Homo sapiens: one gene and its partners. The protein of the gene in region 1 interacts with the protein of each later gene in a pairwise test. Each region holds a gene or a part of one and is shown on either strand. Other genes may lie near its edges.

Region 1 (3,588 bases):
ATGCAGAAGACTCTGGAAGAAAATATGCTGGCATGTGTGTGCATTACAGAGGGAGAGGGAAAGGCATGGAATGCCAAAGAGAAAATGAGAAACAAGGCCTCACTGAAAACACCAGATCTGATATATAAATAGGAATATGTGTTTAACTATCTTGTATGTTTGTAAGTGTAAATGTAGAAACAAAATTCTGCTTGTTTTTGGAATTTTCTTATGAAACCTCTGAAGTATTAAAAAGAAGGTACTGTGTGTTAGTTGATGGACCTGCGGCTTTGCTGGGTTTCCGGAAGGAATTCAGTTTTGCGTGGCAGGTACTCGAGGACCTGTGGGCAGCAGGCAAGCCCAGCAGCGCCCGTGCAGGGTCCTGTGGGAGACGCCATTGGAAAGCTGGTGTGGGCAGCCTGTACCTGGGGCCTCAGCCCTGATCAGGGCACTGGGCAGCAGGGGAGGGGGCATCTGGGGCAGAAGGAGCCAGCTGCATACCCACCTAGGCCTAGGAGAAGCCCCCCACTAGCTGCATGCGAGGAGGAGCTGGCCGTGGCTCAAGGAGGGGTCCCTGTGTGTGGTCTGGGCTCCCTTCAGGAGGTGACGGGCGTGCGCATTACCTTGTGTTTAGTAACTAGAAAGGAAGGGGCTAACATCAGCCCCTGGTGATGCTGGACAGCTAAGATTTGTGAGCTGAGAGGAACTGGAGAGATCACTGAGCCCCTTCCATACACAGGAAACTGGGGGTCTGGAGGGTGAAGGCCCTAGAGCCGGGACGCACTCCACCCAGGACACTGTTCCTCCAGAGTGACTTGCTTCCCACATCAGCCAAGTGAACGAGCATTTTAGAGACATTTTCTCATAAGTTTTTTTCCTTCCCACAGAACTGAACCAACAAGGGAGAGCAACAGAAAGACAGATTCCAGGCTGGTGGATGTGTCCCCTGACAGGGGTTCTCCTCCTTCCCGTGTGCCTCAGGCACTTAACTTTTCTCCAGAGGAAAGCGATTCTACTTTCTCCAAAAGTACTGCCACAGAAGTAGCTCGGGAGGAAGCCAAGCCGGGTGGAGATGCAGCCCCTAGTGAGGTGGGCAGAACGGGCGCAGCTGGGTTCTGTTAGCTGAGATTCCTGGAGGCTGCTCGGGAAGCCCGTGGAACCCAGGGCTGTGGCTGGCGGAGTTCCCTGCCATGCTTCATCCTGGGGCCAGTGCCTCCGTGCCAAGCAACCCAAAGGGAGGCAGTCAGGACTTCCAGGCCTCCAGGGGAGAAAGCCCTGCATTTGACTAAGGCAAGGGTCAGGGATCAAAGCTGAGGAAGCGGGAAGCAGGGTGGCAGGAGCTGGTGGCTGCTGGTGAGCGGGTATGGACAGGGAGGTGGGCAACAGTCAGAGAGGCACGGCCCACCCCATACAGAGCCTCCTTCCACCAAGGCCCCGCCTGATTCCTTGGCTTTCCAAACCGCCAGCCCACCTGGAACATGAGCAAAGCTCACATTCTCCCAAGATGGTTGCCAGAAAGATGCTGGACTCTGCTCTTAACCTTGGTTTTGTACCCAGGCTCTTCTTGTAGATATCAAACTGGAACCACTCGCGGTCACTCCAGATGCTGCAAGCCAGCCCCTCATTGACCTTCCTCTCATCGACTTCTGCGATACCCCAGAAGCACACGTGGCTGTAGGATCTGAAAGCAGGCCTCTGATCGACCTCATGACAAACACTCCAGACATGAATAAAAATGTGGCCAAACCTTCACCGGTGGTGGGACAGGTGAGAAGTGGCAGGTGGTTCATGTTGACTCAGCCCTGGGTGTCCTCAGTTCTGGGATTGTTCATCCTCCCAGGGCCATCGTGGGACCCTTGAGAGTGGCTGTTGAGTCTTCTCAGCTACACACCTCAGGGCAGGATGCACCTTTGGCAGCCTGAGCTTCTCAAAGATCAGCTGCCTCTGAGGTGCCCTGCCAGGACCCTGCCAGCTCTTGTTGGACAGGGACCGCCTCTCTCCTGCCCATAGACCCCAGGGCCAGATGTGGGACAGAGGAATGTGCATGGTGGGGGCCTGGGCTTCTCCGTGTGTGTCCTGTCTCCTTCCAGCTTCTTAGACGTGGTGGCCCAGAGTGCTTTTCAGTGCACCCGAGCCAGGATGAGCGAGTGGCTGTGATGACCCACGCAGCCAGTCCTCTGTGCAGGGAGGGGAAGGGAGGCCCTAGCCGGATCCACGCTCACCTCCTCCACTCTGCTCTCTTCCAGCTCATAGACCTGAGCTCCCCTCTGATCCAGCTGAGCCCTGAGGCTGACAAGGAGAACGTGGATTCCCCACTCCTCAAGTTCTAAGCCGAACCAAATCCTTTGCCTTGAAAGAACAGCCCTAAAGTGGTTTTCAACCCTCAGAAACAAGCTTTAGGCTGGTCGCAGTGGCTTACACTTGTAACCCTAGAACTTGGGAGGCTGAGGTGGGCGGATTACTTGAGCCCAGGAGTTCGGGACCAGCCTGGGAAATATAGTGAAACTCCTGTCCCTACAAAAAATACAAAAATTAGCCGGGTGTGGTAGTGCATGCCTGTAGTCCCAGCTACTTGGGAGGCTGAAGTGGGAGGATGGCCTGAGCTCAAGGAGATGCAGGCTGCAGTGGGCTGTGATTGTGCCACTGCACTCCAGCCTGGGCACCAATGTGAGAACCTGTCTTGGAAAAAAAAAAAAAGAAACATGTTTTAGTAGAAGTTTTATTTGAAAAAGAAAAATAAGCATAAATATATTCCCAGTGCTGGAGAGGGTGGGCTGAGGGACTGGGGCCAGCACGGACCACCCAAGGCCTCTGCTTCCCGCCGCCACCCTCCTCGCTGCCATTCTCTGGGCTGGAATGTGAAGCCTCAGTCACTCTAAATGAAGAATTTTCTTTTGAATGTTTTGTATGTAAAATAGCAAGTGGCTATTTTTAAAGTTAAGTTTGTATAAATAGTTAGATATTCTAGATTTACATTAAATTGTAAAATAAATGGACTTATTGAAGCATATCTTGATTTTTAAGCTTATCTTGATTTTCAAACATGCATAGCTATTTTTATCACTCTAATCAGTAAGGCTACTATCTAGACTCGAATGCTTTCATACAAGTGATTTTCAAAAATTAGTCAATAAAAATTGATGTCAGTGCAGGCCCAGGCCCGCCCCCAGATACACTAGTTTCTAGGTCTGGGGCCAGCCTAGTAATTGTTACTAGGCACACAGGTGATGCTGACTCGATGGCCTGAGACACACCCCTTGAGAAGAAGCTGCTCTGGGGAGACGAGGGTATGAGTGGAAAGAGGATGGGCGAGGAGGCCGGGCTTACCTGGACACTAAGGTGATGGACGGCGTCTGCTGGGCAGGCCTCGGGGAGGACCCCTCAGCTTTGCTCTCAGCAGGGGCCCGACAAGCTCAGTGGGCAGTGGCAGGAACTGAGTGCCACTGGAAAGCCCATTCCCTTTATTTAGAAAACGAGCTCCAGGAAGCCGCTACTTTGTGTCCATTTCTCTTGAGGAAACTTACCACCTTGGTTGAGCGGCTTCATGGCAGACAGCAGCGAGCCAGCGGCCGGACTCTGTATTTCGGACCCCACTCCAGTGCTCCCTGG
Region 2 (3,647 bases), on another chromosome or scaffold:
GTATTTTTAGTAGAGATGGGGTTTCACCATGTTGGTCAGGCTGGTCTCAAACCCTTCATCTCGTGATCTGCCCACCTCGGCCTCCCAAAGTGCTAGGATTACAGGCGTGAGCCACCGTGCCTAGCCTCAGAGAAATCTTTTTAAGGATTAGACAAGCATTTTATTTTTATTACAAGAATTAGACAAAACATTCAAACAATGCTAAAGATAATGCTGCCAAAATGACAGAGACAGCAAGTAGTTCAGTGTTTTAAGGATGCTACGGCAGTTTCATATTGCTATTCTTTTAAAAAGGGAATAAAGGAGGCACCTAAGTTGGGAAACTTGTCTAGTACCCTGAAGAAACAGTTTCTCCAAGGCAACTAAAGACAGGCGGCTCCCTTAACTTTCTCCCTCCAATATCACGGCAATAACTGCTAATTCTGAAGTGATCTGAAGACGACTCACTAAAAAATTTACTCTTAGACCAGTCCTTGTATTATAAGAACCTTTGGAAACAATCTTTCAGTTTTTCAGTTTATCTGAAGTACAGTGGAAGAAAATGCACACTAAGAGAATAATCTTGGGTTGTTCTGATAGAGAAGGGGGAAGGATTCTACTTCCTAAAGCATATAAATAATTTCAAATATTAAAACACTCTAAGAAACCCACCAGGAGGGCTTAACCCTTGTAAAAACGTTAGAAAAAGAATATCAAGAGACAGTAAACTTTTAGGGGGCAACTTAACAACAAGAAATTAGTGAGGCAAATAAGCACAGGAAGCTTGTTCCATGTAGTCAAATCCATCAAAAAGGATTGTGCATAAAAAGGGTCAGCATGTAAAGAATGAGGAGAGAAGCTAACACTGGAGAGGACAGGGTGGATAATAAAGTAAGGTGAGGTCAGCTAGGGCTAATGAGTGGGAAAACATTTTGTGTGTAAGTAATCACTATAAAATATTTCATAGCTGTTACGTCTCAAACTATCCCAACTCTATAGACAAATCACTCTTCTATTCATGTACCAGGTATGGTGAGTTGCTCCTGTGGTTCAAGGTAGAGAAAGGATTTATATACATCACTTGATCCCATCCAATGCTCAAATCCTTAGAAAGCACTACTTCACACCAAGATTCTTCTTTTTTTCTGAGATAGAGTCTCACTTTGTCACCCAGGTTGAAGTGCAGTGGCGCAATCTTGGCTCACTGCAACCTCCGCCTCCTGGGTTCAAGTGATTCTCCTGCCTCAGCCTCCCGAGCAGCTGGAATTACAGGTGTGCACCACCACACCCAGCTAATTTTTGTATTTTTAGTAGAGATGGGGTTTCACCATGTTGGCCAGGCTGGTCTCTAACTCCGGACCTCAGGTGATCCTCCCACCTCAGCCTCTCAAAGTGCTGGGATTACAGGCGTAAGCCACTGCACCCAGCCTTCTTTTTTTTTAAATCAAGGATTTTCAAATGACACGTAAACAGAATAAGGAAACACATCATCTTGGATAATCGAATGGAACCAAACTGAGATTCCCTTCCATGCAGTATCTGTAATTCAGGTATATGTGTCTAAAATTTGTAATGTAAAAATGATCACTGAAAATTGAGTAGTGGACTAACATGCAGATTTGGACAGCTCAGAGACCAAATGCATCACCAGGAAACCCTTCGTACTATATGCTTAGGCAACCAATCCACTGTTTTAAGATCCCTTAAGAATAGGATAGACTAGATCCTGGAGAATCTTGGTATGGCTACCACTTTTAGAAACAAAAGGATTGAATGAATACAAAATTATCACAAGATTTAAATGGTCTCTCTGGGCCACAGAGCCTCAGTTCAAAGAAGCTGGTGGGAACTGCACAGGGCAGGTCTGTTGAGGGTTCTACTGAAGAAACAAGGTATCAAATTGTTTGGATTTTAATCCCCCAGCATCACAATTCATTTTACTTGTTCAGCTAGTAAGACAGAAACACAGTTAAGGGCCGGAGATTTTTCTCAGCGGATTTATGCAGTAATAGATTAAAGTAAAATCAAATTCTACAAATTAAGTGAAAAGTACATTTTACATGCACTGATGTTCAAAGTTTCATTCCAGGGAGATTAAACATGAAACATATATTTAATACTGAATAACTATCTCAAAGAATTTTGTGTTTAATGGCACAGAAAGAACTGTGACTGTCTCATGAAACTTCCTGCTTCCCTGTAAACAAAAGAGAACATGTGTGATTTTCAATTTAAATAAGATCTTCTCCACTTGTCTGCTCAGTGTTCCTAACCTCCACCCTCTTCTTCCTCATATCCCACTGAGGGAAGTAACTAGCCTAGGATTTATTTTTCTCAGAGCAACCAACTTGATACCATTGTTTCTTTTAATTGTAACCAAGGCTTAATCAAAAATTTTGGCTTTATAATGACCATTTCCACAGTTCCCACTTCACACCCTCCTTGTCCTTCACTGTACATTGTCGTTGTCCACCACCCCTACCCACCAGGAGTGGAATCTGTTTTGAGTACAGGGACCCACTTTTTTTTCCTTTTACCTCACTAGTCCTGGCACAGTGCTTAGCAAACACAAGTAGCTCAATAAATAAATACTTATTGATGGACATAAGGAAGAGAACTGGACACTGTGCAAAGCCTGTCTCAGTATGAAAAGCCAAAACTCCCAGCAGAGCAACTGATCTCAGTCACCTTTCCAGAGTTCTCCCTGGCCCAAGAGAGCCAATGTGAATCCCAGGACTCCCTGTGTTACAGGAATAAAGTAGCTCTGGCAAAAACAGGCTTTTGCAGCAAATGCTCTAAGAGATCAGGGAATAAGCACCATAGGGTTCCATCTAGGAAAAATATTAATTTTCCTTGAGGAGCAAAGTGCACATGAAGGGCTTCCTGTGCATGGGCCAGCTTGGGGCGAAATCAGTAACATTCTTAAAACATTCTAAAACACAATTTGTACTGGGTGCCTTCAGACTAAGCCAGCTTCTAACAATTCTAGCCAAAGTTTTTTTGTTTTTTTGTTTTTTAAATAATTTCTGTAGCTTCCAGATGACACTAACACTAACTTTGTCAAAAATAACTAATTGATATGTGTGTGGGGGGGAAGCACTCATCCCTCACCTTCCACAAAACATAAGATATTCAAAATTCACACTTTCTTCAGCTTGCCTAGTGTCAAATATTGCCCGTTGGATATATGTATCTATTAAAGTCCACATACTACCTTTAGCCTGTCTTAGACCCATAAAAAAGTCCTTTTTAACTGAGGAGACCAGAGAACAAACTATTGAGGCCAATAACTTATACTCTAACAAAGCAGTGACCACTGGACAATGAGTTCTGCGTATTTCTCAAAGTGAAATGAATGGCACTATTATCAATCCACAGATAAGAAATTAGAAGGGGAAAAGCTTTTCATTAATAACAAAGGTGGCTGGGTACGGCGGCTCACGCCTGTAATCCCAGCACTTTGGGAGGCCGAGGTGGGCAGATCACAAGGTCAAGAGATTGAGACCATCCTGGCCAACATGGTGAAACCCCGTCTCTACTAAAAATACAAAAATTAGCTGGGCATGGCGGTGCGCGCGCCTGTAGTCCCATCTACTCAGGAGGCTGAGGCAGGAGAATCATTTGAACCTGGGAAAAGGAGGTTGCAGCGAGCCAAGATGGTGCCACTG
Region 3 (4,240 bases), on another chromosome or scaffold:
ATGGCATTAAATGGAGACTCAAAAGGTGGAGGGGGGCCGGGAGCCGTGGCTCATGCCTGTAATCCCAGCAGTTTGGGAGGCTGGGGTGGGCAGATCACCTGAGGTCAGGAGTTTGAGACCAGCCTGGCCAACATGGCGAAACCCCGTCTCTACTAAAAATACAAAAATTAGCCAGGCGTGGTGGCAGGCGCCTGTAATCCCGGCTACTCAGGAAGCTGAGGCAGGAGAATCACTTGAACCCAGGAGGCGGAGGTTGCAGTGAGCTGAGATCGTGCCATTGCACTCCAGCCTGGGCAACAAGAACGAGACTCCTTCTCAAAATATATATATATTATATATATATAAAGGTGGAGGAGATGGGAGGGGGTGAAGGATGAAAAATTACTTAATGGGTATGATGTACATTATTTGGCTGATGGATGCTCTAAGAACCCTGACTTCAGCACTATACAATCTGTGCATGTAACAAAAGCACTTGTTTATTTTATTTATTTATTTATTATTTTTTTGAGATGGAGTTTCGCTCTTATCATCCAGGCTGGAGTGCAGTGGTGCAATCTCGGATCACTGCAGCCTCCACCTCCTGGGTTCAAGCAATTCTCCTCCCTCAGCCTCCCGAGTAGCTGGGATTACAGGCATCCGCCACCATGCCCAGCTAATTTTTTTGTAATTTTAGTAGAGACGGGTTTTCGCCATGTTGGCCAGGCTGGTCTCAAACTCCTGACCTCAGGTGATGTGTCTGTCTCGGCCTCCCAAAGTGCTGGGATTATAGGCATGAGCTACCGCGCCTGGCTACAAAAGCACTTGTTACCCCATAAACTTATACAATTTCTTTAAAAAGCAGCCGCGATCTCTTGAGGAGGGCAGAGCCTTTGTGACCTAATCACCTCTGAAAGGCCCTGCCTGTCAACACTGTTGCATCAGGGATTAAATTTATCTTTTGAGATGGAGTTTCACTCTTGTTGCCTGGGCTGGAGTGCAATGGTGCAATCTCAGCACACTGCAGCCTCCGCCTCCCGGGTTCAAGGAATTCTCCTGCCTCAGCCTTCCAAGTAGCTGGGATTACAGGCATCCACCACCACGCCCAGCTAATTTTGTATTTTTTTAGTAGAGCTGGGGTTTCACTGTGTTAGCCAGGCTGGTCTCAAACTCCTGACCTCAAGTGATCCACCCGCCTTGGCCTCCCAAAGTGCTGGGATTACAGGTGTGAGCCACTGCACTCAGCCGGGATAAAGGCTCCACCTGTGAACACTGTTGCATTAGGGATTACATTTCTGACACATGAACTTTGAGGGACAAAAAACATAGCAGAGAACACAGCCAGAGAGGGGCTTGGCAAGAAGCACTGGTGACTGGTGACAGAAAATAGGAACTTGCACTACTGTGTCCCTCACCTTCTGATTGTTCTGCCTCAGCTTCCACTCATCTGCCTCCCAGATGGGCCCGCCACTCTGTCCACACTGCTTCTGCCACCTCACCATTGCAAACCAGTGGGGGTGGGGGCACAGGGTGTGTTCAGTGATGAGGTCAGGAGTAGCCAGGTGCCAAGTGCCTTGCAGGCTGTGGTTGCGAGTTTGGGTTTATTCTTGGTGTGATGGGAGGCGAAGGAAGGGTTTTAAGGACATTGTATTTGGGGGTGGGAGTGGCTTATACTTCATGAAAGAGCGCTCTGCTGGGAAAGGTGGTCAGGAGCCGTAGCCCAGAGGCCAGATGAAGCCTTCTGCAGTGGTTCGGACTAGGGATAGTGGCTGGCCCGTGTTTGAGGATGCAGGGCAGTGGGTCAGCAGATAGAGTTAGTAGCCCCAGGGTCATGAGGGTTCTGGGAACCTCACCTCCACCCTCACCCCCAGATTGCCAAGGACATGGAACGCTGGGCCCGCAGTCTCAACAAACAAAAAGAAAACTTCAAAAATAGCTTCCAGCCTATCAGCTCCCTGCGAGATGACGAGAGGCGGGAGTCAGCCACTGCAGATGCTGGCTATGCCATCCTCGAGAAGAAGGTGTGTTGGGGCCACCCCCCTGCACCCTGCCCCACAATCTTGTCCTTCCTTTGGGCCCTCTGTGGAGTCCCTGAATTTCTGTGTCCCTCCACCCCAGGGAGCACTAGCCGAGAGACAGCACACCAGCATGGATCTCCCGAAATTGGCCAGTGACGACCGCCCAGTGAGTGCCCAAGGCAGAGAGGGGCGGGGGCTCTGATCTGGCCAGGCCTGACCGCCCACCCTCACCCTCTACAGAGCCCTCCGCGAGGACTGGTGGCAGCCTACAGCGGGGAGAGTGACAGTGAGGAGGAGCAGGAGCGTGGGGGCCCTGAGCGGGAGGAGAAGCTCACCGACTGGCAGAAGCTGGCCTGTCTGCTCTGCCGACGCCAGTTCCCCAGCAAAGAGGCGCTCATCCGGCACCAGCAGCTCTCAGGGCTCCACAAGGTAACAGCGGATGGTTGGCAGGGCATGCTGGGGCCTGGCCCACTGAGGCTCATCCTCTTCACTTCTCATCCTGTCCCTCTTGCAGCAAAACCTTGAGATTCACCGGCGAGCCCACTTGTCAGAAAACGAGCTAGAAGCACTAGAGAAGAATGACATGGAGGTGAGGTGTGACCTGACCCTGGGCTCCCTCCCCTGTGTCCCTTCCAAGTCCCCATCACCTCAGGCAGCTGGAGTTCAATTTCTCACGTGTTAACCCCGTGAGCCTTCTTCCCCATTTTCCTATCCTGGCTGCTTGTGCCTGTGATGGCCTGACCCTCAGGACCTGAGCCTCATTAGCCAGATGGCATGCCCTGTGGGACCCCACTCCCCATGCCTGTGTTGCCTGAGAAAAGAGACCAGCTCCCCAACATTCACATACACATACAAACTTTCAGCAAATGAAGTACCGGGACCGTGCAGCTGAACGCAGAGAAAAGTATGGCATCCCCGAGCCGCCAGAGCCCAAGAGGAGGAAGTACGGCGGCATATCCACAGCCTCTGTGTGAGTGGCTGGGCCAGGTGAGGGGGTCTGGAGCCCGGGGCCGGGGCCGGCAGGCCGACCACTCATGCTGTGCACCGCCCCTGCAGAGACTTCGAGCAGCCTACTCGGGACGGGCTGGGCAGTGACAACATTGGCAGTCGGATGCTGCAGGCCATGGGCTGGAAAGAGGGCAGCGGCCTGGGCCGCAAGAAGCAGGGCATTGTAACGCCTATCGAGGTGAGTCTCAGGCAGTCCTGTCCCATCCCCCAGCACCCCTCACAGCATCCCCCACCAGCCTGACAGAGCCTGCCTCCCTCACACAGGCCCAAACACGGGTGCGGGGCTCCGGCCTGGGTGCACGGGGCAGCTCCTACGGGGTCACCTCAACCGAGTCCTACAAGGAGACACTGCACAAGACAATGGTGACCCGCTTCAACGAGGCCCAGTGAGCAGCTTCAAGAGCAACTTCTCCACATGTTGGGTGTCCATCCTGGGGCAGGGAAGGACAGAGTGTTGGATGGCTGGGACGGGGCCTTGCTCTTGTCGGCCAGCCCACTCCCCAGCCAGAGAGGGCTTGACCAAATCAAATTGAGGTGGTGACTTTTGTTGGAAAATTGGGCTGGGATCACGTCCTGTTTTGTAATAAAAGCTGAAAAGTCTGCATGTTGGCCTCTCCTCTTTCTCGTGCTCTAGCACAGTTGTATAGCCTATACAGACACGGGGACCCAAGCAGATGGACAGGGGACCTTATCAGGCCAAGGTGGATGGCAGTGGTGGCATTCAGTGTCTGGAACATAATGGCTACTAGAACATGGGGTTCTGACCTGTACCCCGACCCATAATATCCTGGTTATGGCCCCTCTCCCTTGTTGGTTCCAGCAGGTTATGTTGTACCAGGAAATCTAGCACCACCAGGCATGAAGCGCCCCCTGATCAGAGCTAGGACTGGGAACCCCCATCCCCTGTCCTTGCTGCCCCCTGGCTTTACTTAGCCTGCAGTCCCAAGGCTAAACTGCATTTTGCCATCCCTAGATCTGGAGACAATGCCCTCAGGCATCTCCAAGTAGAATACAAGAGGTACTCAGGTTCCAGTTGGCCCAGAGCCCTCAACAGGCTGATGACAGAGGGGTGGAGGTGGAGCTTGGCCTGCAAATCCAAGGCCAGGTCCCAGGGATGCCCTTTGAGAACCATTCAGGCCTACCTTCTCTGTTGTTACCACAGTGCCCCACCCCTCTAGTCACTGCAACCCATGATTCCCAAGTATGTGCTTGTGCTCTCGGCAGAGGTTCTGGGT

What was found.
Region 2: the proteins of GTSE1 (region 1) and CPSF7 interact in a two-hybrid assay, tested with the Homo sapiens proteins (one large-scale study listed by BioGRID).
Region 3: the proteins of GTSE1 (region 1) and RBM10 interact in a two-hybrid assay, tested with the Homo sapiens proteins (one large-scale study listed by BioGRID).

Annotation. Positions count from the first base shown.
Region 1 is NC_000022.11:46,327,822-46,331,409, forward strand, and holds the end of GTSE1 (G2 and S phase-expressed protein 1), read left to right. Parts: intron 1-866; coding exon 867-1,068; intron 1,069-1,536; coding exon 1,537-1,746; intron 1,747-2,225; coding exon 2,226-2,309; 3' UTR 2,310-2,989; downstream 2,990-3,588. UniProt on the Homo sapiens protein: May be involved in p53-induced cell cycle arrest in G2/M phase by interfering with microtubule rearrangements that are required to enter mitosis. Overexpression delays G2/M phase progression.
Region 2 is NC_000011.10:61,423,345-61,426,991, forward strand, and holds part of CPSF7 (cleavage and polyadenylation specificity factor subunit 7), read right to left. Parts: intron 1-3,647.
Region 3 is NC_000023.11:47,183,205-47,187,444, forward strand, and holds the end of RBM10 (RNA-binding protein 10), read left to right. Parts: intron 1-1,850; coding exon 1,851-2,000; intron 2,001-2,097; coding exon 2,098-2,163; intron 2,164-2,237; coding exon 2,238-2,426; intron 2,427-2,511; coding exon 2,512-2,586; intron 2,587-2,860; coding exon 2,861-2,967; intron 2,968-3,053; coding exon 3,054-3,183; intron 3,184-3,269; coding exon 3,270-3,395; 3' UTR 3,396-3,609; downstream 3,610-4,240. UniProt on the Homo sapiens protein: Binds to ssRNA containing the consensus sequence 5'-AGGUAA-3'. May be involved in post-transcriptional processing, most probably in mRNA splicing. Binds to RNA homopolymers, with a preference for poly(G) and poly(U) and little for poly(A).